7 linked regions of the Homo sapiens genome follow. The protein of the gene in region 1 purifies or fractionates together with the protein of each later gene. This does not show direct contact. Each region holds a gene or a part of one and is shown in the gene's direction. Other genes may lie near its edges. The genes, in order: RALB, MMUT, DNAJC17, HCN1, ARMC1, XPO5 and SLC25A3.

What was found.
Region 2: the proteins of RALB (region 1) and MMUT fractionate together in Homo sapiens (co-fractionation; one large-scale study listed by BioGRID). This does not show direct contact.
Region 3: the proteins of RALB (region 1) and DNAJC17 fractionate together in Homo sapiens (co-fractionation; one large-scale study listed by BioGRID). This does not show direct contact.
Region 4: the proteins of RALB (region 1) and HCN1 purify together in Homo sapiens (co-immunoprecipitation; one large-scale study listed by IntAct). This does not show direct contact.
Region 5: the proteins of RALB (region 1) and ARMC1 fractionate together in Homo sapiens (co-fractionation; one large-scale study listed by BioGRID). This does not show direct contact.
Region 6: the proteins of RALB (region 1) and XPO5 purify together in Homo sapiens (affinity purification with mass spectrometry; 2 studies listed by BioGRID and IntAct, with this or other methods). This does not show direct contact.
Region 7: the proteins of RALB (region 1) and SLC25A3 purify together in Homo sapiens (affinity purification with mass spectrometry; one large-scale study listed by BioGRID and IntAct). This does not show direct contact.

The regions. Positions count from the first base shown.
Region 1 is NC_000002.12:120,258,923-120,263,207, forward strand, and holds part of RALB (ras-related protein Ral-B), read left to right. Parts: intron 1-4,285. UniProt on the Homo sapiens protein: Multifunctional GTPase involved in a variety of cellular processes including gene expression, cell migration, cell proliferation, oncogenic transformation and membrane trafficking.
Region 2 is NC_000006.12:49,435,754-49,439,637, reverse strand, and holds part of MMUT (methylmalonyl-CoA mutase, mitochondrial precursor), read left to right. Parts: intron 1-3,884. UniProt on the Homo sapiens protein: Catalyzes the reversible isomerization of methylmalonyl-CoA (MMCoA) (generated from branched-chain amino acid metabolism and degradation of dietary odd chain fatty acids and cholesterol) to succinyl-CoA (3-carboxypropionyl-CoA), a key intermediate of the tricarboxylic acid cycle.
Region 3 is NC_000015.10:40,772,542-40,776,826, reverse strand, and holds part of DNAJC17 (dnaJ homolog subfamily C member 17), read left to right. Parts: intron 1-199; coding exon 200-285; intron 286-534; coding exon 535-631; intron 632-1,230; coding exon 1,231-1,274; intron 1,275-1,718; coding exon 1,719-1,796; coding exon of another isoform or gene 1,797-1,859; intron 1,860-2,390; coding exon 2,391-2,471; intron 2,472-2,989; coding exon 2,990-3,100; intron 3,101-4,285. UniProt on the Homo sapiens protein: May negatively affect PAX8-induced thyroglobulin/TG transcription.
Region 4 is NC_000005.10:45,254,061-45,257,312, reverse strand, and holds the end of HCN1 (potassium/sodium hyperpolarization-activated cyclic nucleotide-gated channel 1), read left to right. Parts: 3' UTR 1-2,365; downstream 2,366-3,252. UniProt on the Homo sapiens protein: Hyperpolarization-activated ion channel that are permeable to sodium and potassium ions. Displays lower selectivity for K(+) over Na(+) ions.
Region 5 is NC_000008.11:65,606,678-65,610,177, reverse strand, and holds part of ARMC1 (armadillo repeat-containing protein 1), read left to right. Parts: intron 1-3,500.
Region 6 is NC_000006.12:43,544,538-43,548,822, reverse strand, and holds part of XPO5 (exportin-5), read left to right. Parts: intron 1-362; coding exon 363-562; intron 563-1,115; coding exon 1,116-1,215; intron 1,216-1,369; exon of another isoform or gene 1,370-1,507; intron 1,508-2,070; coding exon 2,071-2,252; intron 2,253-4,285. UniProt on the Homo sapiens protein: Mediates the nuclear export of proteins bearing a double-stranded RNA binding domain (dsRBD) and double-stranded RNAs (cargos). XPO5 in the nucleus binds cooperatively to the RNA and to the GTPase Ran in its active GTP-bound form.
Region 7 is NC_000012.12:98,599,401-98,603,685, forward strand, and holds part of SLC25A3 (solute carrier family 25 member 3 isoform b precursor), read left to right. Parts: intron 1-234; exon of another isoform or gene 235-484; intron 485-554; coding exon 555-727; intron 728-1,770; coding exon 1,771-1,881; intron 1,882-1,967; coding exon 1,968-2,128; 3' UTR 2,129-4,285. UniProt on the Homo sapiens protein: Inorganic ion transporter that transports phosphate or copper ions across the mitochondrial inner membrane into the matrix compartment. Mediates proton-coupled symport of phosphate ions necessary for mitochondrial oxidative phosphorylation of ADP to ATP.

The DNA.
Region 1 (4,285 bases):
GTTCAGATGTGTTCGGAGTTTCTTCCTTCTGGTGGGTTCGTGGTCTCGCTGGCTCAGGAGTGAAGCTGCAGACCTTCGCGGTGAGTGTTACAGCTCTTAAGGTAGCGCGTCTGGAGTTGTTCGTTCCTCCCGGTGGGCTCGTGGTCTTGCTGGGCTCGGGAGTGAAGCTGCAGATCTTCGCGGTGAGTGTTACAGCTCATAAAAGCAGCGTGGACCCAAAGAGTGAGCAGTAGCAAGATTTATTGCAAAGAGTGAAAGAACAAAGCTTCCACAGCGTAGAAAGGGACCCCAGCGAGTTGCCAATGCTGGCTCGGGCAGCCTGCTTTTATTCTCTTATCTGGCCCCACCCACATCCTGCTGATTGGTAGAGCCGAATGGCCTGTTTTGTCAGGGCGCTGATTGGTGCGTTTACAATCCCTGAGCTAGATACAAAGGTTCTCCACGTCCCCATCAGATTAGTTAGATACAGAGTTTCCACACACAGGTTCTCCAGGGCCCCACCAGAGCAGCTAGATACAGAGTGTCAATTGGTGCATTCACAAACCTTGAGCTAAACACAGGGTGCTGATTGGTGTATTTACAATCCCTGAGCTAGACGTAAAGACTCTCCACGTCCTCACCAGAGCAGCTAGATACAGAGTGTCGATTGGTGCACTCACAAACCTTGAGCTAAACACAGGGTGCTGATTGGTGTATTTACAATCCACGAGCTAGATATAAAGACTCTCCACGTCCCCACCAGACTCAGGAGCCCAGCTGGCTTCACCTAGTGGATCCCGCACCGGGGCTGCAGGTGGAGCTGCCTGCCAGTCCTGCGCCATGCACTTGCATTCCTCAGCCCTTGGGTGGTCGATGGGACTGGGCGCCGTGGAGCAGGGGGTGGCGCTCGTCGGGGAGGCTCGGGCCGCACAGGAGCCCATGGAGTGGGTGGGAGGCTCAGGCATGGTGGGCTGCAGGTCCCAAGCCCTGCCCCGTGGGAAGGCAGCCAAGGCCCGGCGAGAAATCGAGCGCAGTGCCGGTGGGCCAGCACTGCTGGGGGACTCAGTACACCCTCCGCAGCCACTGGCCTGGCTGCTAAGTCCCTCATTGCCCGGGGCCAGCAGGGCTGGCTGGCTGCTCCGAGTGCGGGGCCCACCAAGCCCACGCCCACCCGGAACTCCAGCTGGCCCGCAAGTGCCGCACACAGCCCCGGTTCCTGCTCGTGCCTCTCCCTCCACACCTCCCTGCAAGCCGAGGGAGTGGGCTCCGGCCTTGGCCAGCCCAGAAAGGGGTTCCCGCAGTGCAGTGGGGGGACTGAAGGGCTCCTCAAATGCCACCAAAGTGGGAGCCCAGGCAGGGGAGGTGCCTAGAGCAAGCGAGGGCTCTGAGGATTTCCAGCATGCTGTCACCTCTCACTAGTAGTGACTTCAGTAGCTAATAAATGGGGGATAGTGAAGGAGCAGATTTTAAGAGGGAAGAATCAAGAATTCTATTTTGGGAATAAGTTGAGAATCTTGTGGCAGCCCAGTGGGCAGGGGCAGCAGCAAGGCTGTGAGCCTGGGGCCAGGAGAGCGGTCAGGGCTGCATCCTCAGGTTCGTAAGTTGTCTGTACAGCCACTGGGCTGTATGTGGTGCAGATGAGGAGGGAGCAAGACTGAGCTCCGAGAAGTGCTGACATCTAGATGGGGAGGAGGAATGCCTGGCAAGTGGCGCCGAGAAAGGGCCCAGAGAGCCACCCGGGAAGCACTCAGCCTGTGGGAGAATGTGGGCTGTGGAAGCCAGGAGGGATGGCCTCAGGAGGGGGACGCTGGAAGGGGCCCTATACAGGCCTGCTGCGGGCCTTCCCTTTCCAGGCAGCGTTTTGTCACTCTTGCTACTTGCTCATTTTAAAGAGGAGGAGGGCATGGGAAGGAAGAAAGAAGAGTTTTTATTGGAGCTAGCTACGTGGAGTTTGTGGGTGATCTTGATCTCACAAATTTCTGTGAGCTTATATTGGGAGGAAGTTGGATTGGAATGGTTTCCGTAAATAGTGAGGGAAGGAAACAAAGGCTTTTGCTACACAGTGTGGGGTCTGTGGGTCAGGAACATGATTAGAGACTAGGTTAGTGGTGCCAAATCTTGGGCTCCACTCCAGACCTACTGAATCAGAATATGCGTTTTCACAAGATTCCCAGGTAAACTATGCATTAAAGTTTGAGAAGCATTAGCACAGATAATTCCTATAGAGGAATTGTGTCATTAGCTAGAAGGATATATGGGGGTCAAAGGCACACACGCATGTGTGAATCTTTAGGGTGAAGATTCAATAGAACGTGTCTACATGCTGTTGGGGATGATCCTGTAGCAAAGTAAAGACTGATTGATGCTGCAGGAAGAAGGGTAGTGGTAGGAATTAAGTTCTTGGGCATGGTGGTGGTGGAGGGCTTGGCCTTTGCTAAGAGCAGGAATGTGTACTCCATGAGGCTGGAGACAAGGAGAAGAAGGGCGTGGAAGGTTTGTAGATTTGTTGAAGGAGCTCTGAGGGAGTTAGGGTTTGATGGCTTGGTGTTCTCTGGGACAAATGAGGTTAGGTTATCTGTCAAGAGTAAGCAGAGGGAGGGCACAGGGGAGAGTCACAGCGAGATTACTAGGAAGTGTGGGGGAATGCCCATTCGTGGTTTGTGATCATAAGTGCATTGAGAGTGGAGTGCTGGGAGGCTGCTTTCTTGAGTTTCTTTCCCTCGACAGCAGCATTTGCATGCTGGGTGCAGGTGCTGAAAACAGTGAGTGAGATGGAGGGGAAGGGAGCAGGGAGATGAGGTATCTGCAAGAGGGCTTTTCTCATGTCAGGCTTTGGGATCTAAGCTGGTGAAGGGAGGCAGTGCAGCCCAGAGGGTCTTGTTATGCAGAGAGAGAGTGCTGGAGGCCAATGCTTGCAGGTGTCAAGAGGGCAGAGAATTGTGTGTGGGGGTGGTATTTGAACAAGTGAGCAAGAAGGATGGAGGCTGAGGCTAGAGGGTTAGAGGAGATAACTGTTTCTGGTGACGGTGAAGTTCAGGTAATGACCATGATAATGTTAGATAGAAGGAAAGAAAGGGTTTTCGGAGAAGAGAGGATCAAGGACTTGAGAGGGGCCGAGCTTGGCTGGGACATCCACATGCACAGATGTCATTGGGGAGGACGACAGGAGTTGGGTAGAATGGAAGTCTGCAGACCAGAAGCAGATGTCCTCAATAAATGAGGGAAGTGACCAGGAAGTCTGTAGCTGATAGTAACAAGGTGAAGGACAGGCTATTATGGCTGGAAAGGCCAGGCCTCAAAGGTATGGGGGCTTTTGTAAGACGGATGGGGCTAACAGAGGTACTGAAGTGCAGGTGACATTGGGGAGGGAGGAAGGACACATATCTGGTCTGTCTGGCCCTGAAGCACATGGCATGGGAGGAGAAATAGCATCTGCTTGATGTGGTGTCCCCAGGGCACACCCAGGTCTCAGAGCTAGAAGGTAGAGGAACATTCTTAGAAGAGGTGGAGGCTCTCGAAGGGTTTGCTGGTGTGCCTGAGGTTGCAGGGACCAGGTGGGTTAGCCATTTCAGGAGATGGATGCAGTTCTGTTGGGTTGAGAGCCCTAGTCATAGGAAAGAGTGGGGACACCTGCACTTCTGGTGGTGACTGTTCAGGACAGATGTTCAGCAGTGTGCTCCCCTTAAGAGGAGGGTGGTCCTGTTCTAGCACCGTAGTTCCCAAACGTGGCTGGGGAGGTGGCAGCTTCCTTGTGTGATCCTCTCAGCCTTCACATACTGACACAGCAGGGAAGAGAAGGCAAGACTGTTTCTGTTAGAGCCGTTTCGGGAGTTGCTGGGGAGATTTAGGACAGGGACATCCTGAAATGCCCATTGGTTATGCCTCTAAGGCAAATTACGCTGTGTTTTGGGTGATGAAGAAAGAAGGGTGTGAAGGGCTTCTGTTGATGAAAATCTGCCTGTGCTTGTTTCCAGGTGGAGTATGCCTTTGGTACGCGTTTTCCACGTGTCCCTCTCCACTGCCCTGAGACGTAGGCAGGGCAGATATTGTCAGTGAGTGGGAGTGACTTGCCTAATCCTCTAGTGAGTCAGTGGCTGAAGGAGGACTCAAAGCCAGGCCCCTTCATTCCTCAGGACAAGGGGGACTGCGTCTGAGCAAAAAGTATCTTGCCTTATCTCTTTCTTATGGACTGGCAGCTTTTCCTACTTTACCATATATTTGGCTCTGAGGCCAGTTTCTTTCTCAAGACTTTCTAGAGTATTAGAGTGATATTTATTTATTTATTTTGAGGTAAGTTCTCACTGTC
Region 2 (3,884 bases), on another chromosome or scaffold:
GCCTATTTGGATTTTTGGAAGCAACACATTCCTCATTTGGAATGTGTTACTCTGTGTTACTCTGGCCTATTTATCGAGTGACCCAAAAGACTGCCAGTTTTGAGTGGGGTCCAGAATAGGAGAAGGCTCTGCAACAGGTCCAGGCTGCTGTGCAAGCTACTCTGCCACTTGGGCCATATGACCCAGCAGATCCAATGGTGCTTGAGGTGTCAGTGGCAGATAGCAATGATGTTTGGAGCCTTTGGCAGGCCCCCATAGGTGAGTCACAGCAGAGGCCTCTAAGATTTTGGAGGAAGGGCCTGCCATCTTCTGCAGATAACTACTCTCCTTTTGAGAGACAGCTCTTGGCCTGTTACTGGACTTTGGTGGAAACTGAATGTTTGACTATGGGTCATCAAGTCACCATGCGACCAGAACTGCCTATCATGAACTGGGTGCTTTCTGACCCATCTAACTATAAAGTGGGTCTTGCACAGCAGCATTCCATCATCAAATGGAAGTGGTATATATGTGGTCCAGCTTGAGCAGGTCCTGAAGGCACAAGTAAGTTACATGAGAAAGTAGCTCAAATGCCCATGGTCTCCACTCCTGCCACCCTGCCTTCTCTCCCTCAGCCTTTATATATATATATGTAAGGGGGAGTTTATTAAGTGTTAACTCACATGATCACAAGGTCCCACAATAGGTCTTCTGCAGGCTGAGGAGCAAGGAGAGCCAGTCCGAGTTCCCAAACTGAAGTATTTGGAGTCCAATGTTCAAGGGCAGGAAGCATCCACCACGGGAGAAAGATGTAGGCTTGGAGGTTAGATCAGTCTCTCTATTCACATTTTTTTGCCTGCTTATATTCTAGCCACGCCTGGCAGCTGATTAGATGGTGCCCACCCAGATTAAGGGTGGGTCTAGCCCTTTCCTAGCCCACTGATTCAAATGTTAATCTCCTTTGACAACACCCTCACAGACACACTCAGGGTCAATACTTTGTATCCTTCAACCAAGTTGACATGGAGTATTAACCATAACACATATAGTCCAATTAATTATGATAGAAATAAAAATAAAATATAATTAATCTTTCAGACTTTTAAAAGTGTCAGTTCAGAACTAAAACTGATTATGCCTCTGGAACTATGAAGATTACTTTCAAAGATCTTATTGTACTCTTTATTGAGATTTGACTAATATTTTGTGGGAAAGATAGCCCACATGGGATTGGTGAAAAGTGTTTTGAAAAAGAAATCAAATAGCAATATAAACTCAATTCATAAGTAAGGTTATTTTCGTTTATTTTTGTTGTCTTTTTTTAACTCTCTACTAATATGTTACTTAGTCACAGAATATTAGACTTAGACAGGAAAATAGTTTGCAGGAGATAAATTACACTGACATTTTCCATAGAATGATAATACAAAAAAATTTGACTAGAAAGTACATTGTAATAATTTTATATGAAAAGCCTTCTCTACTACATATGTATTGATCATCTACCAGATGCTAGGCTCTGAGTTGAGTAGGATACAATTTTGTCCTCGAGGTTACAATCTCCTAACAAAGAGAGATTTACTTACTTGTAATTACATCGTATGAAATTTACTATGTAAATTATTACTATTTCGTACATAGTATGAAAATTACTATAACTAAATTACTATAACTTTATACTATACTATAACTATAGTATAAAATTACTATAACTAAAATATGGACAAAGAGGGCACCTCACTTGTTACAAGAAACCCAGAAACTTATATTTGTTGATCCTTAAAACTTATGTTTGTTTCAGAAGCACAGTGCCATTCACTTTCTAGTAAAATCACTCTCTGAAGTGGATGGAGGAGAGCTGCAACTAGATTCAAGCAGTACGGTGAAGAAAAACAATGAGAAACAACGAAGACCTTAACTAGGGCAATGTCAGGGTCTCAAGAGAAACCAAATCTCAGCTAGGATTTTGAAGAAAATTTAATGGAGGGACTACTTACAGATATGTAGGCAGGATTGCTAGAACCACTAAGGAATAATGAGGCCTCCAGGAATTAAATTTTTAAGAATTTCAAAAGCCAGTTGTTTTTCATGGTGTGAAATGGTGTCTCATTTGTTTAAGTTCCTTGTAGATTCTAGAGAGTAGACCTTTTACTATTGCCTAAAACCAAAAGTGATAAGTACTAAAAACTTATCACTCCCTATATTTATATATTTTATTATCTGCTTTTTAGGTTATTTCCATCTATTTTTTCTATATGGTAGTGATACTGTATAATTGTGTGGCTATTGTGTGTCTTTTTTTCTGCTTTGCATTTAGTAATGTCATGTTAATAGGGTGAAATTGGCTATGGTTGGAATATTCACAACATAAAAATCAGCAAACACTAAAAATTAGGGATTGAGTTATTGTTTTCAGAAAATTTGATGAAAAATGTAAATAATCAGAACAAAGTTCTCTGAGGGAAATAATGTAACGATGAATATTAAATTTAAAAGTTTCTGATATCTGTAGGCATTACATTAGGAAGACCCCCCAACATTTGAGGAAACATTCTTTTAGTATTCAAAAAAATATTATTTTTTGTTTGTTTTTTTAACTTTTATTTTAAGTTCAGGGGTACATGTGTAGATTTGTTATATAGGTAAACTTGTGTTGTTAAGCCTAGTACCCATTAGTTGTTTTTCTGACCTCCCTCCTCCTGCTCCTCTACCCTCTGATAGGCCCCAGTGTGTGTTGTTTCCCTCTTTGCCTTGTTTGTGTCCATGTGTTCTCATAATTTAGCTCCCAATTATAAGAAAGAACATGTGGTATTTGGTTTTCTGTTCCTGTATTAGTTTGCTAAGGGTAATGGCTTCCAGCTTCATCCATGTTCCTGCAAAGGACACGATCTCATTCTTTTTTTCTGGCTGCATAGTATTCTTTAGTGTGTGTGTATCACATTTTCTTTATCCAGTCTATCACTGATGGGCATTTAGGTTGATTCCATGTCTTTGCTGTGGTGAATAGTGCTACAATGAACATACATGTGAATGTGTATTTTTTTTTTTTTTTTTGAAACAGAGTCTCGCTCTTTCATCCATGCTGGAGTGCAGTGGTATGATCTTGGCTCACTACAACCTCCACCTCCTGGGTTCAAGTGAGTCTTCTGCCTCAGCCATATGAGTATCTGGTACTACAGGCACGTGCCACCATACCTGGCCAATTTTTGTATTTTTAGTAGAGATGGGTTTCACCATGTTGGCCAGGCTGGTCTCGAACTCATGACCTCAAGTGATCCACCCGCCTCTGCCTCCCAAAGTGCTAGAATTACAGGCATGAACCACCACGCCCAGCTGCAAGCATGTTTTTATAATAGAAAGATTTCTGTTCATTTGGGTATATGTACGGTAATGGGATTGCTGGGTTGGGAGGTATTTCTGTTTTGAGGTCTGTGCGGAATCACCACACTGTCGTCTACAATGGTTGAACTAATTTACACTCTCACCAACACTGTATAAACGTTCCATTTTCTCCACAACCTTGCTAGCATCTGTTATTTTTTGACTTTTTAATAATAGCCATTCTGACTGGTGTGAAATGGTGTCTCATTGGGGTTTTTATTTGCATTTCTCTAACAATCAGTGATTTGGAGCTTTTTAAAAATACGATTGTTGGCCACATGTATGTCTTTTTTGGAAAGTGTCTGTTCATGTCTTTTGCCTGCTTTTTAATGTTTTTTTGTAAATTTGTTTAAGTTTTTTATAGATGCAGGTATTAGACCTTTGTCAGATTCACAGTTTGCAAAAGTTTTCTCCCATTCTGTAGGTTATCTGTTTACTGTGTTGATAGTATCCTTTTCAGTGCAGATGCTTTTTAGTTTAATTATATCTCATTTGTCAATTTTTGCTTTTGTTGTAATTGCTTT
Region 3 (4,285 bases), on another chromosome or scaffold:
TGCTAGACCCCATACTTCTGTGCTGTGATTTTTCTCAATGGAAATTGACTCGGGGGCGTGGGCATGGAGGGAGGGGGCAGAGTTACTGTATGATCTCGTCGTGATTGAGACTTTGGGGAGGCAGCCAGAGCTGGGGTGGGCCGAGGCCACATGGAAACTGAACAGACCAGCAGTCTGGTCATTCAACCCTTGTGTCTAGACCTGGAGGCCCGGGAGCGGCAGGCCCAGGCCCAGGAGAGTGAGGAGGAAGAGGAGAGCCGGAGCACCAGGACACTAGAGCAAGAGGTGAGCACTCAGGCACACTGGCCAGAAGGCCACCTGCAGGAGGAGGAGGTGGGGGAGGATGGACCTGGTGGTCGCCGTGGCTAGAGAGGGCATGCTCTTTGCACCTTCAGTGGGAGCTGGGTGATTTGTCCCACCCACAGGTTGCTGAGCCCTAGCTTGCAGGTGGAAGCTCCCAAGGACTTTTTACAAGGTGAGCCAGCCTGGAATTGGACCTGCACAGAATTGTCACCCCCACCCCCTGCTCTGCAGATCGAACGCCTGAGAGAAGAGGGTTCCCGGCAGCTGGAGGAACAGCAGAGGCTCATCCGGGAGCAGATACGCCAGGAGCGTGACCAGAGGTTGAGAGGTGCAGGTCTATCACCCCGCCTATCTCCCCTCCAAGGTAGCTCCAGATTGCTCAGAGCGGCCACACTGGCTGTTCGGTGGAGCTGCTGTGGAGGCTTCTACCTGCTGGAACCCTGGGGTCACCCTATGGTACCTTACTCTGACACATGCCACTTATCCCGTCTTCCTCCCAGTTCTCTGGGGCCTATTTGCTTTTTACTCTGCCTGAGATCTCCTGGCCACATTTGGCTTTGTCCCAAGCAGAGGTGGCCTTGTTTTGGGACAGATCACCACGGGGAGGGGCCCTGGGACACTTTGTGCCCGTAGAACCTCATGGTCTGTCTCTCTGCCTCCTGTCCCTAGAAAGTGTTCCTAGCTCTCCATTCAGAGAGTGCTGACAAGTGGCCTTCAGGAGGCAGCTGGGTAGACCACCCCTGGGGTGGCAGCTTCTCTGGGGATGGGCATCTGCTTTCCCCACCAGGCCCTCACCAGAGCTGGGCAGGCATTGCCCTTGGTCAGGAGTGACCCTTTCCAGACCCTTCTTGCTCTGGGCTGCATTTCCTTTGGGAGAATCTCTGACTCCCTCATATTCTACTTTTCTTCTTTTCCCAATATTTCTAGGAAAGGCAGAAAATACTGAAGGCCAAGGAACCCCCAAACTAAAGGTGAGCCTGGGCAGGATCTGTGGGCCACCTCACACTCACACCGCCTCCCCTCAGCAGGAATAGATGCTTCCTGTGGCTCGAGGGTTTCTGGTGGGGCTGCTGGATCTGCGTGGAGCCCGCACCATTACCACCTCCCTCCATGCTCCAGCCGCCCGGAGATCAGAGCTTGCCACGAAAGGCTGCTTTTAGCCCTGATCACAGGGCAGAGGATTCTCTAGAAGCCCTCTCAGGAGAGGGTCTTCTGGGCGGGAAGCGTCCCTGGGGTGAGCAGGCCATCCTGCCTTCAAGTTCCCAAGGGGAAAATGTTTCTGGTGGCACTCCCCAGATTGCAGGAGCCTTGGAGGCTTGGAGGGTGGGAGGATGTCTGCTCAGACTGTCAAGCTCAGTCGTGGGGTGAGGTACTGTTCAGCCAAGAATCAGTGTTTCATGAGGCTCTCTTTTCAGCTAAAATGGAAGTGCAAGAAGGAGGATGAGTCAAAAGGTGGCTACTCCAAAGACGTCCTCCTACGGCTTTTGCAGAAGGTCGGCCCTGTTGACGTCCACTCTTTCCTATCATCTCAGTCCACGTCTCAGTCCACACCCTAGGTCTCTGCTCTCAATGCCTGAACTTCCCTTAACATATCTACTTGCTTTTTTTTTCTGTCTCATAGACCATGGGACGTCTTAGAGACTTCTCCCCAGGCTACAGCCTTGCTTTCACTTGTGTGGCCATGTGCCCCCTTCCAGCCCGCTGTCCTTTGCTACCTCGGTCTAACCCTTACCCTTAGAAGCAAAGAGCTTGGTTGAGTGGGTTGGGAGGGACGAGGTGCGTATCTGGCACGAAAGCCCCGTCCTTTTCACCACGTTCAACTAGCAAGGACGCTATGCAATGAAATGTGTCAGTCTAAGTCACCAGGGCTTTGCTCATCATTCCTTTGCTGCTCTGTGTTCCTAGAAAAAAATTTCTTTCTTTCCTATCTCTGATCTCACTTCACTAAGATAAGTAGGTGGGGCAAGAAGTTATCTCCCAACTGAAAATGCCCCATGGGCCTCAAGGTAGCCCAGGCTTGTCTCTGGCATGACCTGGGCCATCCTGAAGGCCAAGTCATGCTTATTAGGACCCCTTTGTCCCCACAGTATGGTGAGGTTCTCAACCTGGTGCTTTCCAGTAAGAAGCCAGGCACTGCTGTGGTGGAGTTTGCAACCGTCAAGGCAGCGGTGAGTGCTGCATGAGGCTTGGGGGCCCCTCGTGGCCCTGTCATTCTAGGGCAGGGACCCAATTCTGTGGGCCCTCTGAGTTAGGTGGTCTGCACTCCTAGGGAATCTCCAGGCCAGCTTAGAGCCAAGGCTCTTCCCAGGGGCCCCTGACTCCTGGAAATAGAGGCACCGTGTGTGAAGGGATGGATGGGGGGTGCTCTGGGGAGAAAGGAGAGCACAGACTTGACTCTGCTCCCTGCTGGTGCCTTCACACCCTCCACCTGCACCCCTTGGGGCTGTGAGCCCCAGCACTGCCTTCCCACCCTTTGTGCTCCTCGCCTCCCCACATCAGAAAGCTCCCCCAACCCCTCTCCCGCAGGAAAGGCCAAAGCGTTAACACCCATCACTTGAAGGCTGCTGAGGTTGGCATCTCTGCTTAGAGGGCTAGAACGCTGGTTCCGTTCTCTCTGTGGGGGTAGAGAGAGCCTCTTTATAGCTGACTCAACGGATGGGACAGGACTAGATGCTGTGTTTGGCAGGAGCTGGCTGTCCAGAATGAAGTTGGCCTGGTGGATAACCCTCTGAAGATTTCCTGGTTGGAGGGACAGCCCCAGGATGCCGTGGGCCGCAGCCACTCAGGACTGTCAAAGGTGAGGAGTCAGGCCTCGCCCGGCTGGGCGCTCAGGTCTCGGAGCTCTTCCTACCTGGGCTCCTCTCAGGCTCTTTCCTTCCAAATTCAGATCTTGGGGCCTAGAGTGAGCTTGGCAGGTCCACCAACCCAGGCAAGAGGGGCTGTGATTTCACGTTGAACCCTTTTCCTCTCTGAGGGCCAGAGAGGCCCCACCCACACTGTATTCTTAGACCTTGCTTTCTCTCCATATCTGGCCTCCTGTTGGGACTCTCCTTCTCACCAAAGGGATCTTCCTGGCCCTCAGGTTGCTTGGTTGTGGTGTGTGAAGCATTTGGAGCTTAGACGACCCAGTGCTGCAGAGAAGGGGCAGGTGACTAGGACAGCCACTTCCTTCCCAGCACTTCAGTTTTCTGGATGTGTCTCTGGCTGCCCCAGAAAGGGACCGACTGTCAAGAGGCAATATCTCCTCTTGAAGTAACCCTGGCAGGCTGGGCGCAGTGGCTCATGCCGTTAATCCCAGCACTTTGGGAGGCCGAGGGGGGCGGATCACCTGAGGTCAGGAGTTGAAGACTAGCCTGACCAACATAGTGAAATCCCGTCTCTACAAAAACACAAAAATCAGCTGGGCATGATGGTGCGCACCTGTAATCCCAGCTACTCAGGAGGCTGAGGCAGGAGAATCGCTTGAACCAGGGAGGCAGAGGTTGCAGTGAGCCGAGATCGTGCCATTGCACTCTAGCCTGGGCAACAGAGCAAGACTTCATCTCAAAAAAAAAAAAAAAAAAAGAAGGAACTCTGGCTACCCTGCTGACACGGGGTGGTGCCTGCCCAGAGTCTGGGTGCCCTGCCTGGGTGAAGCGTAGACCTTCCAGCTTGTGTGTAACCCCCAACCTGCAACCATGGCCCTGGTGTCTTTTGGCCTGGATACAAAGGCTAGGGCTGTGGGGCTCCTGGCCACACCTGTCCCCACCTTGGTGGAACAGATTGCTTTGGGGGCAAGATCTAGCAACCTGGTTCTTCCCTTCTCTGCAGTGGCCCAGGGCCTGTCTGGTGTGTCCACAGCCCCTCAGCAGGCTGGCAGGAGGCTGCTCTCATTACTTTACCCACGCCAGCCTGCTCCGTTGCCTGCCCCTCCACTTGACTGGGGTGACTGGAAAGCAGCTTTCTGCAAGTGTGTCCCAGATCCTGGATGGAGGGAAACAAA
Region 4 (3,252 bases), on another chromosome or scaffold:
AGCTGGAGTGTCTCACAGGGTGAAGAGGAACCCAGATCAAGTGGGAAATAGGGATTTCAAAAACCTTCTGAAAGGCTTTTAACATCAGGGCAAAGGTTTTACAGTGTTGTACTTTATATTCTTAATTTAAGCTTATCAACGGGGAGGATTCACATTGAAATGTCTGTTTTGCTAATGTAACAAGGAATAAAATAATTTATGACACAGCAAAAACTGGGGGCTATTTACAACCCCACCCTGCCTTGTGAGGATGCTGGGTCCTAAGGAAGGTCCTAGGTTTGCTAAATAGAGTAATGGGAATAGGAAACTGAAAGTTTACTTGCTTTGCGTAAGATAATATATTGCGGCAGGGAAGGGGTACAAGAAGATAAGAGCTAGAACCTGTGAGAAGGGAAAGAAGTGATAAAATAATTTTGGCTAAAATAAAGCAAGTTCTCAGGCCAGGCGTGGTGGCTCATGCCTGTAATCCTAGCACTTTGGGAGGCCAAAGTGGGAGGAATGCTTGAGGCCAGGAATTGGAGACCAACCAGGGCAGCATGTCAAGACCTGGTCTCTACAAGGAAAAAAAATTTTTTTAATTGACCAGTATATACTTACATACCTGCAGTGTTTAGAAAACCCGACTATAGGTGGTGTATTCCTGTAGTCCTAGTTACTCAGAAAGTTAAGGCAGGAGGATCGCTTGAACTTAGGAGGTCAAGGCTGCAGTGAGCCCTGTTCGTTCCACTGCACTCCAGCTTGGGGGACAGAGCAAAACCCTTTCTCAAGAAAAACCCAAACAAACAAAAAAGTGAAGCCAGTTCTTTAATTTCTATTGGAGATATCACACACGCTCCAAAGAGTGGCAAAGGTGAACATTCTTTGGAGCTATTATATTTCTAATGTAACATCAATGGCCATTTACTCCCAAAGGGAAACATCTTTTTTTTTTTTTTTTTTTAAGATGGAGTCTGGCTCTGTCACCCAGGTGGGAGTGCAATGGCAGGATCTTGGCCCACTGCAACATCAGCCTCCCAGGTTTAAGCAATTCTCCTGCATCAGCCTCCAGAGTAGCTGGGATTACAGGTGCCCGCCACCATGGCTAGCTAAATTTTTGTAATTTTTAGTAGAGACAGGGTTTTACCATGTTGGCCAGGCCGGTCTCGAACCCCTAACCTCAAGTGATCCGCCCGCCTCACCCTCCAGAAGTGCTAGGATTACAGGCCTGAGCCACCGCACCCGGCCCTGCTATTTTTTTCTATGTAGTTGTTTCAGTAATACCATATGAGCAGAGAATACTATTGATTCATTCAATTGAAGAAATCTGAATAAATTAGTAAATATAATAATTCTTCAAAAGAGGACCACTTTATGTTTCCAATAGATTATATAATTGAATTCAGGTAACGTAGAGTTATTCAGACTTTTTTTTTTAAATAACGGAATTTTGCAAAAAAACAGGTTGCATCGTTTTCTACAGAGAATATTCAGATGTGTAGAGGCAAAGAGACTTTCTTGAAAGGTTTTTATTTCCTGTTAAATTTGTGAGGAAAACTCCTGAGAAAGGAAAGATTTACTTTTGAAGGAAGAAAGAACATAACCCAAAGAAATTTGAAAGATTCAAAAAGAGTTTTCCAAATGTATTCTCATTTCTTTCTCATATTTGTTCAAGGTCTTAGTTTCCAAGCATTCAAAATTAAATCTTGTTTGCCTAACTCTTCTAACATCTATTACCAACCTAACATATTACAATTCTGTTTAAAATGTGCAGTTCTAAATGTTCTTGCGTGCCTCACTGTGGAAAGTGTGGTGCATGGAACTGCAGCGTCAGTATCACCCAGAAGTATAATTACAAGAAGTGCAGAGTCCTTGGCCTTACCCTGTACCTACAGAAGTCCGCTTTTGGGCAAGATCCCCAGATGATTCATATGTGTATTAATATTGAAAAAATTGGAACTAGTAAGTCCTAGAGGAGGTAAATTTTAAGGGCTTTTTAAGGGAACTTCCAAGTGTGAAGACATTTCTGGAGATGACAAGTCAACATAGCATGGGATCTTGGCTAGACAAGGAAAGCGAGAGAACATTAAATAAACACAAGCAACGACAAACCACCTATGTTATAATTTTATCCTGGACCATCCAAAGTTTACTCTTGGTCACGCTGTCTAACCCAGCCTGCCTCCTGGCACTTGCTAGTTAGAACCAGGGAAGAGAAAACTAATATGTGTTAGGTATTATAATTTCCTTATGTCACATAAATTTTGGTGCCATAGCTAGCAATGTTTCTTAATATCACATCAGTACAATGTGTCCATTGCCTTCTGTAACATTTTTAATGCTATCAATAATACATTGACATTATAAAAATAAATGAATGTGGTCAATATTTTGCAAAGAGCTTCTCTTCATCAGCTATATCTATACACCTGCAGTGTTTAGAAAGCCTGACTACAAAAACTGGCTCTACTGCTTATGTCTTGCTCTACTTGCTTATTCTACCCATGGTAGAATTATATAGTCATATTGTGTCCGGAGTTGGTTCCTTCCAGTGGGTTCATGGTCTCACTGACTTCAAGAATGGAGCCACGGACCTTTGCGGTGTTACAACTCTTAAAAATGGCACAGACCCAAAGAGTAAGGAGCAGTAAGAGTGAAAACAAAGCTTCCACAGGTGGAAGCAAACCCCAGTGGGATGCCTCTGCTGGCTTGGGGGTGGCCAGCTTTTATTCCCTTATTTGTCCCCTCCCATGTTCCATTTTTGTCCTATCAGAGTGCCTTTTTTCAATCCTCCCTGCGATTGGCTACTTTTAGACTCCTGCTGATTGGTGCATTTTACAGAGCACTGATTGGTGCATTTTACAGAGCGCAGTTTGGTGCATTTTACAATCCTCTTGCTAACTACAGAGCACTGATTGGTGTGTTTTACATTCCTAGCTACAGAGTGCTAATTGGTGCATTTTACAAACCTCTTGCTAGCTGCAGAATGCTGATTGGTGCGTTTTACAATCTTAGCTACAGAACGCTGATTGGTGCGTTTTACAATCCTAGCTACAGAGTGCTGATTGGTGCATTTTACAATCCTCTTGTAAGACAGAAAAGTTCTCCAAGTCCCCACTCGACCCAGGAAGTCCAGCTGGCTTCACCTCTCAATATTACATCTGCTTTCATGACCGGAAAATGGAGATTGGAATAGTTTCTACTTTACAGGGTGGTTGTGAAGATTAAATGAGCTAAATTTTACAAAGAATTTATTCCAGTTCTTGGCCCCCATTA
Region 5 (3,500 bases), on another chromosome or scaffold:
TGCAGTGAGCTGAGATTGCGCCATTGCACTCCAGCCTGGGCGACAGGGCGAGATCCCGTCACACACACAAAAAAATTTTAATTTTGTCTATATTTTTAGTTGTTTAATTCTAGAGGCTAAATCTGGTCCCTGTTAATCCATCTGGACTGCAGCTGGAAGTTCCCCTGAAGTTACCTTGCACAGAGAGAAGTTATATAACTTTACATATTTAGGGGTAGCAGTTGGTAGATTACCACTTACCTCTTTAGCAATGCCAGGTAGGTTATATTAGATTATTCACAGCTTTTTTCTTTTTCTTTTCTTTTTTTTTTTTTTTTTTTGAGACAGAGTCTTGCTCTGTCCCCCAGGCTGGAGTGCAGTGTCGTGATCTCGGCTTACTGCAACCTTTGCCTCCCAGGTTCAAATGATTCTCCTGCCTCAGCCTCCCCTGTAGCTGGGACTACAGGTGCCCGCCACCATGCCCATCTAATTTTTGTGTTTTTAGTAGAGACGGGGTTTCACCATATTGGCCAGGCTGGTCTCGAACTCCTGACCTTGTGATCCACCCGCCTTGGCCTCCCAAAGTGTTGGGATTACAGGCGTTGAGCCATGGCGCCTGGCCCACAGCTTTTTCTAGTTGTGTTTAGGTGCTTAGGCTCAGGATATGGGGTTTAGTAAATAAGCCTTCCATATGCATATTGTCAGACCCAAATCAGTCCACAGCTATCTTACTGGAAGTGGGGTCACAAGGCAATTTCTAGAAAGCAAGTTCTGATAAAGGTAAATTGATTCACTGGAAGATCTTAAGATATATAAAATATCTCCAATACCATGTGTTTAATTTTAGTGAATAAGAATAATATAGTTTCTTTTTAAAGCTAGCACAAATCAAGTAATAAAACCCAGCAAAGCACACACAAAAATATAGGCTAGCCAGGTGTGGTGGCACATGCCTGTAATCTCAGCTATATGGGAGGCTAAGGCAGGAAGATTGCTAGAGCCCAAGAGTTCAAGACCAGCCTAGTCAACATAGCGAGATTCCGTCTCAAAAAAAAAAAAAAAAAAGAGCAGAAACCAAACAAACAAATATATAGGCCAATATATAGTAAAAACATGATTACCAAGTCCAAAATGAAATATTAGCAAGTTAATTCTAGTACTGTACTATCATGTTAACTTTTTTTGGTGACATAGCCTGGTACTAGTGATAAGTTTATTTCATCGATTCTCTCATTTGTTTCTGACAGCACAGAGAGATGTATATCTTCTTTCTTTCTTTATTTTTTTTGAGACAGAGTCTCACTCTGTCGCCCAGGCTGGAGATCAGTGTGACACGATCTTGGCTCACTGCAACGTCCACCTCCCAGGTTCAAGCAATTCTCCTGCCTCAGCCTCCCAAGTAGCTGGGATTAAAGATGCCCACCACCATGCCCGGCCAATTTTTTTGTATTTTTATAGAGACGGGGTTTCACTATATTGGCCAGTCTGGTTTTGAACTCCTGATCTCAAGTGATCTGCCTGCCTTGCCCTCCCAAAGTGCTAGGTTATAATAGAAGGGGAAGTTGAGTTTAGAATGGTCAAATAACTTAACTGTTTACTCTACCTATGTAACTTTAGCTTAGTCAACATTTTTTGGACTAGGTAGTGTGACTTCAGAATTGAACTCTTTTTCGAGACAGAGTTGCTCTTTTGCCCAGGCTGGAGTGAGGTGGCGTGATCTCAGCTCACTGCAACCTCCACCCCCTGGGTTCAAGTAATTCTCGTGCCTCAGCCTCCCAAGTAGCTGGGATTACAGGCACCCACCACCACGCCCCGCTAATTTTTTTGTATTTTTAGTAGAGACAGGGTTTTGCCATGTTGGCCAGGCTGGTCTTGAACTCCTGACCTCAGGTGATCCACCTGCCTCGGCCTCACAAAGTGCTAGGATTACAAGTGTGAGCCACCGCGCCTGGCCCAGAATCGAACTTTTAATCACAATATTATAATTTCCTAGAAACAATCTAGTTTTATCCTGGAGTTGTAAATATGATTTAACATAGTGAAATATTTTAGTATAATATCAGTAAGTCAATAATTTGATAATTTGCTATTGATATAGCTGTAAATATAGAAAATCCAGGAGAATGATCTGAAATTTCTTAAAAATATTTTAAAAATCCAGTGACATTATTAAATATATGGAAATCAGTTACTTCTTAAAAGGAGAAAAGTAGTTTTACTCTCCCAAACAAAACAAACAGCTAGGAAGAGTGCAGGGGTATTTTTTCTTTTTTTCTTTTTGTTTTTTTAAACTTAATGACCAGTGTGATAGTAGCAAGGGTATTCTTAATAAGAAAATACAAGACTTAATAAAAAAAATTAAAGGTCTTCAGTATTATAAGAAGACTGGAATAAATGGAATGAAATGCCTGTTTCTGAAAGTTTGTAAGGATGTTAGTTCTTCCTAAATTTGTGGACTTAAAATAATGCCAATCAGTCTGATGATTTTGGAACTTTATTTCCTGATCTGAAAGTTCACATGGTAGAATGTACTAATTTTTACAATAAAAAGGAGCACCTAATGTTAGGCATTATTTTAGATACCAGGGATACAGCGATGACCAAAAAGCAAAACTTTTTGCTCTCTTGGAGCTAGCATAGTTGGAGGAGGCAGGCAATAAGCTTGCTAAAAAAGTGTGTTAATTTATGTTAAAATAAAGATAAATTAGACTTATGAATCTCGTTTCTCACTGTTGCATGTGGTTGGCATTTAGTACCAGACTCTACCTGTGGTAAATCAGGCAAGTTGTTTTTCAACTTTTCACTTTCCTCACATTTAAAATAAGGGATCAGATTAATAGTATCCTAACTTATATATATTGTGTGAGCTTTACTTCACTTTCAAGTTTACCTGGTGTTGAATATGTGGAAGAGATAAACATGGTGCTATTTGGCACCAGTCCTCTAAGGGGCTTCACCAAATGCAGGCCCCTGCAGAGCAGGGTCCAGACACAGTGCACTAGATGAGCCCACTGTGGGCCTGTGCTGTGCCACAGACTGACGTGTCCCACGTCTCCCTGAGTAGTGTTGAAATGCAGAAGTAGGGAGATGAGCAATGGTGTGAGCAGTTGTTTTGAAGGATGTGGAAATAAGTTTGAAAACTGGATATAGTCTACAGATTTGGCACGTGGGTCAGTTGCAGATTGACCCCTCAGAAATATAAATCAAAACTTGGTCTCAATACAGAAATCAGAAAATGTAGAGAGTGTGATTTGGTGTGTGGGCCAGAGGTGGAGGGAGCTATGAGGAGAAAATGCAATTACTTTTTCCATTTTCACTTTGGATCTTGTATTGAGATGACCACTTGATGGTCAAGTGGATATGTCTGACAGACAAATAAGAAAGTCATATTGGAGTTAGTAATGTTAGTGATGGCTAAAGTGATGAGAATAGTCTTCTGAGGTTTGAAGCAGAAAGAAAATCAGTTTAGGAACTGGACTTTGGAGTTAAGGTGAGACAAAGCTGGAATAATCAGTGGGAAA
Region 6 (4,285 bases), on another chromosome or scaffold:
AACATTACTCCAGATTACAAATTATCCAGAAATTTCTTCTCTGAATGCACAGCAGTTATCTCCATATATATATAGATATACATATATATCTATATATATATATAAAACAAGCTGATCTTTTCACAGTTGTAGTATGGGAAAGTGCAGTTATCCAAATACTCAAGACAAGAGCTATCTTCCGCCTAAATTGCCTTGCTTATTTAGGCAAAATAAAGACATATAACAGAATTACCAAATAATAACCTTATAGGCCTGACTTTCCTGGGACTGCTTTGGTTTTCTTCTTTCTTCCTTGAGTAAGCCACCTCTCCTTGAAAATCAGACCTTTACCACCTCTGGCTTTTTTTCTTTTTGATCTGTAGCCCAATTTTGACATGCTTTATAACCATGTGAAGCAACTCCTCTCCAATGAGCTACTCCTGACACAAATGGAGAAGTGTGCCCTCATGGAAGCCCTGGTTCTCATTAGCAACCAATTTAAGAACTACGAGCGTCAGAAGGTGTTCCTAGAGGAGCTGATGGCACCAGTGGCCAGCATCTGGCTTTCTCAAGACATGCACAGGTAAAGGAGATCCCTTGCCCTGACTCTTACTATACTCAAGCACCCATTTTGGTTTAAGAGCTAGGCCCAGGGTGGGGTAGGGGTTAAGGATATTGAAGTGTGATGGCATTATCCATGATATCTGAAGTTCTCTAAAAGCAGTCTTTTGTAATTTAATCTCTGGTTCAATTAGATTGTGGGTGGGGAGGGCACAGAGTGAGACTCCTGTGGTGTCTGCATTGCAGCACCAGCACATTTAGAAAAATGAGAACAGCTAGGAAGGGCCATACAACCACACAGACACTTATCTGTGCTCACACAGTAGAGAAATTATTTTCTTTATATTTTGAAGATTATATTCTTGTTTAATTCTTAAATTGTTACTAATAATATTTGGGAGTGGGAAGGGAAATTTAAACCTTCAAATGACAACTGACAATTAGTATGATTATACTCCTCTCACTATAAAAACTGCTCTTAAGGGCCAAATAATGATAGCCTGTTAACTCCTGTGGAAGAAACTGTCCTTGTTTAAAGTCATGATGTAACTTGTTTTTCCCCCTCCAACCTTCAGAGTGCTGTCAGATGTTGATGCTTTCATTGCGTATGTGGGTACAGATCAGAAGAGCTGTGACCCAGGCCTGGAGGATCCGTGTGGCTTAAACCGTGCACGAGTAAGACTTTCCTGGGAATGGGAAGTGGCATTGGCCATGGGTAGGAGTAGGGTGTTGTCTTTTGTCAAGTTTCTCATAGATTTGTTTTTTCTATACTGGTGAGAAACGTGGGAGTCTCCACTTCCCTAAGCTTCTCCTTTCTTTTCTTCTTTAGTCTTGAATTCTTGAGTTAGTTCCCACAGCAGAGCAGATGGTCTTTTCTATGAAGTCATTATTTTGGCTTTAAGGATCTCTAAATAGCTCTGAAGACTGAAGGTGTAATGAGGAAGTAGGTCAGAACTTGGTCAGCAGGGTGAGTCCTCCCTGCCATTGCTCTCTGGCATGTAAAGTCTTAAGTGATGGCTTAACTTGCAAACCTGAGATTTTTCAGTGCTTTGCTATTTAAATAAGCATTGTTCCTGGCTCCATTATGGCACAAGTCCCATTAATTAACCTGGCAAGTAGTAGGTTGATTCAGAGTACCGTGAGGGGGGATTAGGACACTAGCTGTCAAGGCCCAATAAGGGTCAACTCAAAGAAGATGAAGTGATGGCATTTTAAACACTTTGTTTTGGATCGTATCTAAGCCACCTTCTCATCAGGGTCCTGTGGGTGGGTCACTGCAGCTCCTAGAAAGACAGCTTACTGCAAGGGAAGTTTCCAGAGCCTACCACTGGCCCTGAAAATGGCAGTGAGAGGATCCCTCTTGGACTTCACCTTAAAGGAAGGGATGGGGGATTGCCGGGGAGCAGAGGATTATTTCATTCTCTCTGGCCTCTGTGTCACTTTTGCCAGAACCTTGAATATATCTAACAGTATTTGGTCTTTTTTTTTTTTTCCTTTTAATATTTATCTGTCATTCTTATTTTTCTATAGATGAGCTTTTGTGTATACAGCATTCTGGGTGTGGTGAAACGAACTTGCTGGCCCACTGACCTAGAAGAGGCCAAAGCTGGGGGATTTGTGGTGGGTTATACATCCAGTGGAAATCCAATCTTCCGTAACCCCTGCACAGAGCAGATTCTGAAACTTCTTGACAATTTGCTTGCGCTTATAAGGTGAGTCAGAATAATGGCTTTTCTCTGTTGTTTTCTACTTTACCTTAAAAATTTCAAAAGTTTAGTCTGTTTACATGTCTTCATATCTTAGTGGTATTAATGAGGGATTGATTTAAGTCTTATTTCTTTCTAGAGGGTGTCTCAGTTTTAAAAAAAATAACATCAGCTCTCACTTGCATAAATCTTAATTTCCATGTGAACCCAAGGGGATAATCCCAAAAGGGCTTTTCCCATTTTGAGCCTCCTCTTTGTTGTTCTTCCATTTCTTTATACTTCATCCCTATTTTTACTTGTAAGTTTTATTTGGTCTAAATTTTTTAGTAAAGGAATTGCTCATTGGGAGCAGGGCAGTTGCCTTCTATAATGATGCTTGTCTAGGTGGTATTCATATGAGCTAATCTGAATTTATCAATACTGAGTCTGAGCTCAGATGAACCAAACAACCGCTGGCTGAACATGCTAAACAAAGGAATTATAAATTTTTCATCTGAGTTTGCTAGATCCTTGGTTCTCAAAGCTGAGTCCTAAGACCAGTAGCATTAGCATCACCTGAGAGCTTATTTCAAAGGCAGAATCAAGGCCCCACCCCAGACATACTAAATCAGAATCTGCATTTTAACTAGATGCCCAGTGGTTTATATACACATTAAACATTCAGAATCACTGTTTTAGATCACATGAGTTAATATATTCAAGTGGAAGTAGGCCAGTATAGGCTTATCAGTTACTAGATATAGATATTTGATGACTCAGGGATGGTCTCTAAATGAAAAGATAGGTTTTTTTATATAATTCAGTTATTGGCCAAAGAGTGCTTTTTGTATCTCACAGGATTGGTTTTTTTTTTGTTTGTTTGTTTTTTTGAGACAGAGTCTCACTTTGTCACCCAGGCTGGGAGTGCAGTGGTGCAATCTTGGCTCACTGCAACCTCCGCCTCCCAGGCTTAAGCGATTCTTCTGCCTCAGCCACCCAAGTAGCTGGGACTACAGGTGTGCACCACCACTCCTGGCTAATTTTTGTATTTTTAGTAGAGACAGGGCTTCGCCATGTTAGCCAGGCTGGTCTCGAACTCCTGGCCGCAAGTGATCAGTCCACCTCGGCCTCCCAAAGTGCTGGGACTCCAGGAGTGAGCCACCACACCTGGCCTCTCACAGGATGTTTAAATTACATTGTTAGAGCTCTGTTTCAGTACTTTTTGGCCCCTTCTCCAAGGAGTAAAAGCAGTCTCAACGGGGCAAACCAAATTATTCATGTCGCAGTGAAACTCTCCTGGGAATAGACACCCAAGACCTGAAGCCTGAGAACCAAAGATTTTAAGTTAATGTTGACAAATTGGAGGGCTGGAGTGTCTGATAAAGTTGTCATTGTGGACATGTCTGTGGAAATAGACAATATTTTGGCGGGGTGTGGTGGCTCACACCTGTAATCCCAGCACTTTGGGAGGCCAAGGTGGGTCAATCACTTGAGGTCAGGAGTTTCAGACCAGCCTGGCCAACATGATGAAACCCTGTCTCTACTAAAAATACAAAAATTAGCTGGGCATGGTGGCACATGCCTGTAATCCCAGCTACTCGAGAGGCTGAGGCAGGAGAATCGCTTGAACCCGGGAGGCGGAGATTGCAGTGAGCTAAGATCACGCCACTGCACTCCAGCCTGGGCGACAGAGTGAGACTTCCATCTCAAAATAAATAAATAAATAAATAATATTTTCTTTTGATTTCTAAAGGAGGAAAGAGATCTCTGAAAAGAAGTAGGACTTGTACTGAGAGGGTTAAACATTTAGTCAAGAAGAGGCTTATTTCTATCGTGATGTTTTTATTAATAGAGATGGGGTTTTGCCATGTTGCCCAGGCTGGTCTCGGACAGCTGAGCCTGCTTCAGTCTCCCAAAGTGCTAGCATTACAAGTGTGAACCACCACACCCAGCCCCATAGTGATGTTTTTTAAAACCACAAGGTTCTTCTGCAGCTAGAGAAACGTGAAAGTGATGGAAATCATAGGGCAAGAAGCTAATCACCTAGACCTTTTTAGGCC
Region 7 (4,285 bases), on another chromosome or scaffold:
TATTATAACATTTAATGTCTATTTACCTGTATGTAGAACATAAACTTGAGAGGTAAAGATAAGTTAATACATGGTTTGAGCCCTGGACTGAGTTTTTTTTTTTTCCCTAGAGTAAGGACCATTTGTCGGTCTACAAATGACTTGATGTTTGGCCTAAACATTTACTATTAACTTTTAGGGAGGGCTTGTTAGTATCCTTGTGATCTATTCACAGTTAAGAATTTCCATGACCACAACATGCTTCCTTAGATCCACCTTTGTGGATGAATCTTGAACTGAGTTCCACTTGTAAACTTCTTGTTTCTTGTGGTTCCAGTAGTCAAAGAAACATCCAGCAACTTTTTTGGTTGTATAGTCAAAGGTGCTTGAGTCATTGGCATGTAAGAGAAATATACCTGCATGTTAGTCTAACGTTCTGATAGAAATGACATGCATTTATGCTGCCATTTGTTACTATCAGGACTCGACTCGTGTGCGGACATTTCTGTTAATAATGACAGTCTCTGATAGATGAGTGTATGCAACTGTGTAAAACAAGTCTCTTGATTTCCTAGATTCTACAAGGGGGTTGCTCCTCTCTGGATGAGACAGATACCATACACCATGATGAAGTTCGCCTGCTTTGAACGTACTGTTGAAGCACTGTACAAGTTTGTGGTTCCTAAGCCCCGCAGTGAATGTTCAAAGCCAGAGCAGCTGGTTGTAACATTTGTAGCAGGTTACATAGGTACGAATTACTTAGAACACACTTGTCTGAAATTATGAACAAATAATCATTTCCATTATTGGCGTTTTTTGAGAGGGAAAAATACTCCAAAGGTTATAAAGCAGTGTTTTTGTTTTTTTGGTTTCCCTGAGGCATAGTCTCGCTCTGTTGCCCAGGCTGGAGTGCAGTGGCATGATAATAGCTCACTGCAACCTCCTCCTCCTGGGTTCAAGTGATTCTTCTGCCGCAGCCTCCCAAGTAGCTGGGACGGGCATGCACCGCCATGCCCGGCTGATTTTTGTTTTTGTTTTTTGTTTTTTTTTGAGATGGAGTTTTACCCTTGTTGCCCAGGCTGGAGTGCAGTGGTGCAATCTTGGCTCACTGCAGCCTCCGCCTCCTGGGTTCAAGCGATTCTCCTGTCTCAGCCTCCTGAGTAGCTGGGATTGCAGGCGTCTGCCACTACGCCCGGCTAATTTTTAGTATTTTTAGTAGAGACGGTTTCACTATGTTGGCCAGGCTGGTCTCAAACTCCTGGCCCCAGGTGATCTGCCTGCCTTGGCCTCCCAAAGTGCTGGGATTACAGGCGTGAGCCACCGCGCCTGGCCTGATTTTTGTAAAGATGGGGTTTCACCATGTTGATGAGTCTGGTCTCAAACTCCTGACCTCAGGTGATGTGCCTGGCCTATAAAGCAGTTTTATCTTCCCATAACATTTTATATGCTTTTTAGGATTCATAAATACTTGCTAACTAGTTCCTAAAAGGGCTGTTTCATGGGATGTCATTATTAGGCTTGGGAATGTATTGATCTTACTGTTGCACCATTTTTTTGTTGTTGTTTATTAAGAATTTTATACAGAAAGTGTTGAATAAAATCTGAAAAACTTTAAAAGATTGTTCCGTTTTACATAGGATAGACAGCTTGATAACTGTACCCGTGTCACCCTGAGTCTGATTTTTATTTTAGAACTAGAAAAATATTATTTTAAAATCATAAAAATGATTATTGGCTCTGTGAAGTTTTGTTTTTAACTGGCACTGTATGGGATCCTTTATCTTTTTTCAGCTGGAGTCTTTTGTGCAATTGTTTCTCACCCTGCTGATTCTGTGGTATCTGTGTTGAATAAAGAAAAAGGTAGCAGTGCTTCTCTGGTCCTCAAGAGACTTGGATTTAAAGGTAGGATGATGTTTTTTTCTTGAAAGAAAGAACAACAGTTTTGGATATGTTGCATTTTTTTCATTTGCTTTTCCTGTTTGAACCAGGTGTATGGAAGGGACTGTTTGCCCGTATCATCATGATTGGTACCCTGACTGCACTACAGTGGTTTATCTATGACTCCGTGAAGGTCTACTTCAGACTTCCTCGCCCTCCTCCACCCGAGATGCCAGAGTCTCTGAAGAAGAAGCTTGGGTTAACTCAGTAGTTAGATCAAAGCAAATGTGGACTGAATCTGCTTGTTGATCAGTGTTGAAGAAAGTGCAAAAGGAACTTTTATATATTTGACAGTGTAGGAAATTGTCTATTCCTGATATAATTACTGTAGTACTCTTGCTTAAGGCAAGAGTTTCAGATTTACTGTTGAAATAAACCCAACTCTTCATGATTTGCCTGTGACTTATTTTTAAAACTTTTTTAAAAAAGATTTAGCTTTAAAATAGTTGGAAAGAATGAAGTATATAAGTTAAGGAAAAAATACAAAACTGACCATGACCATTGTTGGTTGAATATTCCAGTTGCTATTCAGAAATTGTCATATGTCTCAAGTTTTATCACACAAAGTTCCTGTATTTCTAGGGAAGCAGACTTTAAATTTCTAAAAACTTGATTTAATTATAGTTAAATATGTGTAGTCATTTGTGGTTATTTTGGCAAGTAAATGTCAGTGTATACTTACATTTTTGCAGCATGTACTACACCTTTTTTATGTTGGTGAGTTTGCTAATCCTTATTTGTAAGACAAGGTAAACCAAATTAGGCTGATTCTTAGAATGACAGTAAAGGACCAAAGTGATTGACAGCTGAAAACAATTTTCAGGTACACTAATTCTCTTTACACAGATCTGACTTTTTTTTTTTTTGAGACGGAGTTTCACTCTTGTTGCCCAGACGAGTGTAGTGTCGCGATCTCGCCTCACGGCAACCTCTGCCTCCCAGGTTCAAGCGATTGTTCTGCCTCAGCCTCCCAAGTAGCTGGGATTTCAGGCATGTGCCACCACGCCCAGCTAATTTTGTATTTTTAGTAGAGACGGGGTTTCCCTGTGTTGGTCAGGCTGGTCTCGAACTTCCAACCTCAGGTGATCCGCCCGCCTCAGCCTCCCAAACTGCTGGGATTATAGGCATGAGCCACCGTGCCCGGCTCTGACTTTTTACAGAAAATTGAACTATTTTCAGTCTGGTATTTTAAGAAAGGTACTGCTTGACAGCTGAACTATATGAATGCCACTGGGGAAAAAGCATTCCATCATACTTAGATACGAGATTGGATTGTAGGTTTAAGCCCATTTTTAAAGAGCTCCTAGAAAGTGAATTAGTTTTTGTGTTTAGATTCCCCTTAAGTTTGATTAGGAAGTGTATAAAAGTTCAATCTTTTGTAATGACAGCCCACCACTGGAAAAAAAACGAAAAACCTAGTGTAATATATAACATGCTGTTTTTCAAACACTAGATTTTACCTAGAGTCCTTATGTGTAATACGTGGGTTGGTTAACAGTCCCTACGTAAAGCGTACAGATGGCCTGGAGAGAAAAACTTTTTCAGAGATTGGAGAGAAATGTTACTACAAACTCATGGTAAGGTCAGTGAACTCAATTTAGAAGCCAGTGCAGCTAGTTGCATGTTAACTTCTTTATATCATCATTGCCTGAACTTGTTAAAGGTTCCAACATTTTACCTGTGCTGCAGGAAAAAAGGAAAAGTTGTAGGTACAAATTTGGACCAAACTTTAAAAAGGTAAAGTAGGATGTCTTCTGAACCCAACCAAGTGGTGGCTGTGGTGCTTAGCAGTATCAACTGTATATTATTTCTTGCTATGTTAGCAAAGCATCCAAAGATCAATGGTGTATGATAAGCTTTTCTGTGGGTGAAGAACTCGGGAGTATCAGACTCTTCTGGTTCTGAGTCTCATGAAGCTTTTCACTTCTGAGCTGAAAGGATGCTCTTTGTGCTTTTCACTATTAGTGGTATAGTCTTTCCCGAAAATCTCTAGCATGGTGGCTTCAGGGCAGCTGGACTTAGGTGGTATTTTGGGGCTCCAGGAGAGCTTGGCAGAGTTGGCTTTTTAGGACTTATCCTTCAATGTCACATAACATCACTTTTACCATGCTCTTGGTTACAACAGTGATGTCTCAGAAACCAAGTCCCAGATTGAGGAAAAAAGGAACATAGTCTCTACCTCTTCCTGAGAGGAAAGTCAGTCAACGTGTAAGAGGAGCAGTAGAAACGCATTAGTCCAGCCAACGTGAAAGTGGACCGTAGATCTAAAACATTTTGGGTATGCAGTTCAGCCAGCCCTTACTGAGGCAGTTCTGCCAATCAGGATTCAAGTTTTATTTCCTAAGAGTTATAATAGGTTTTATTTGTG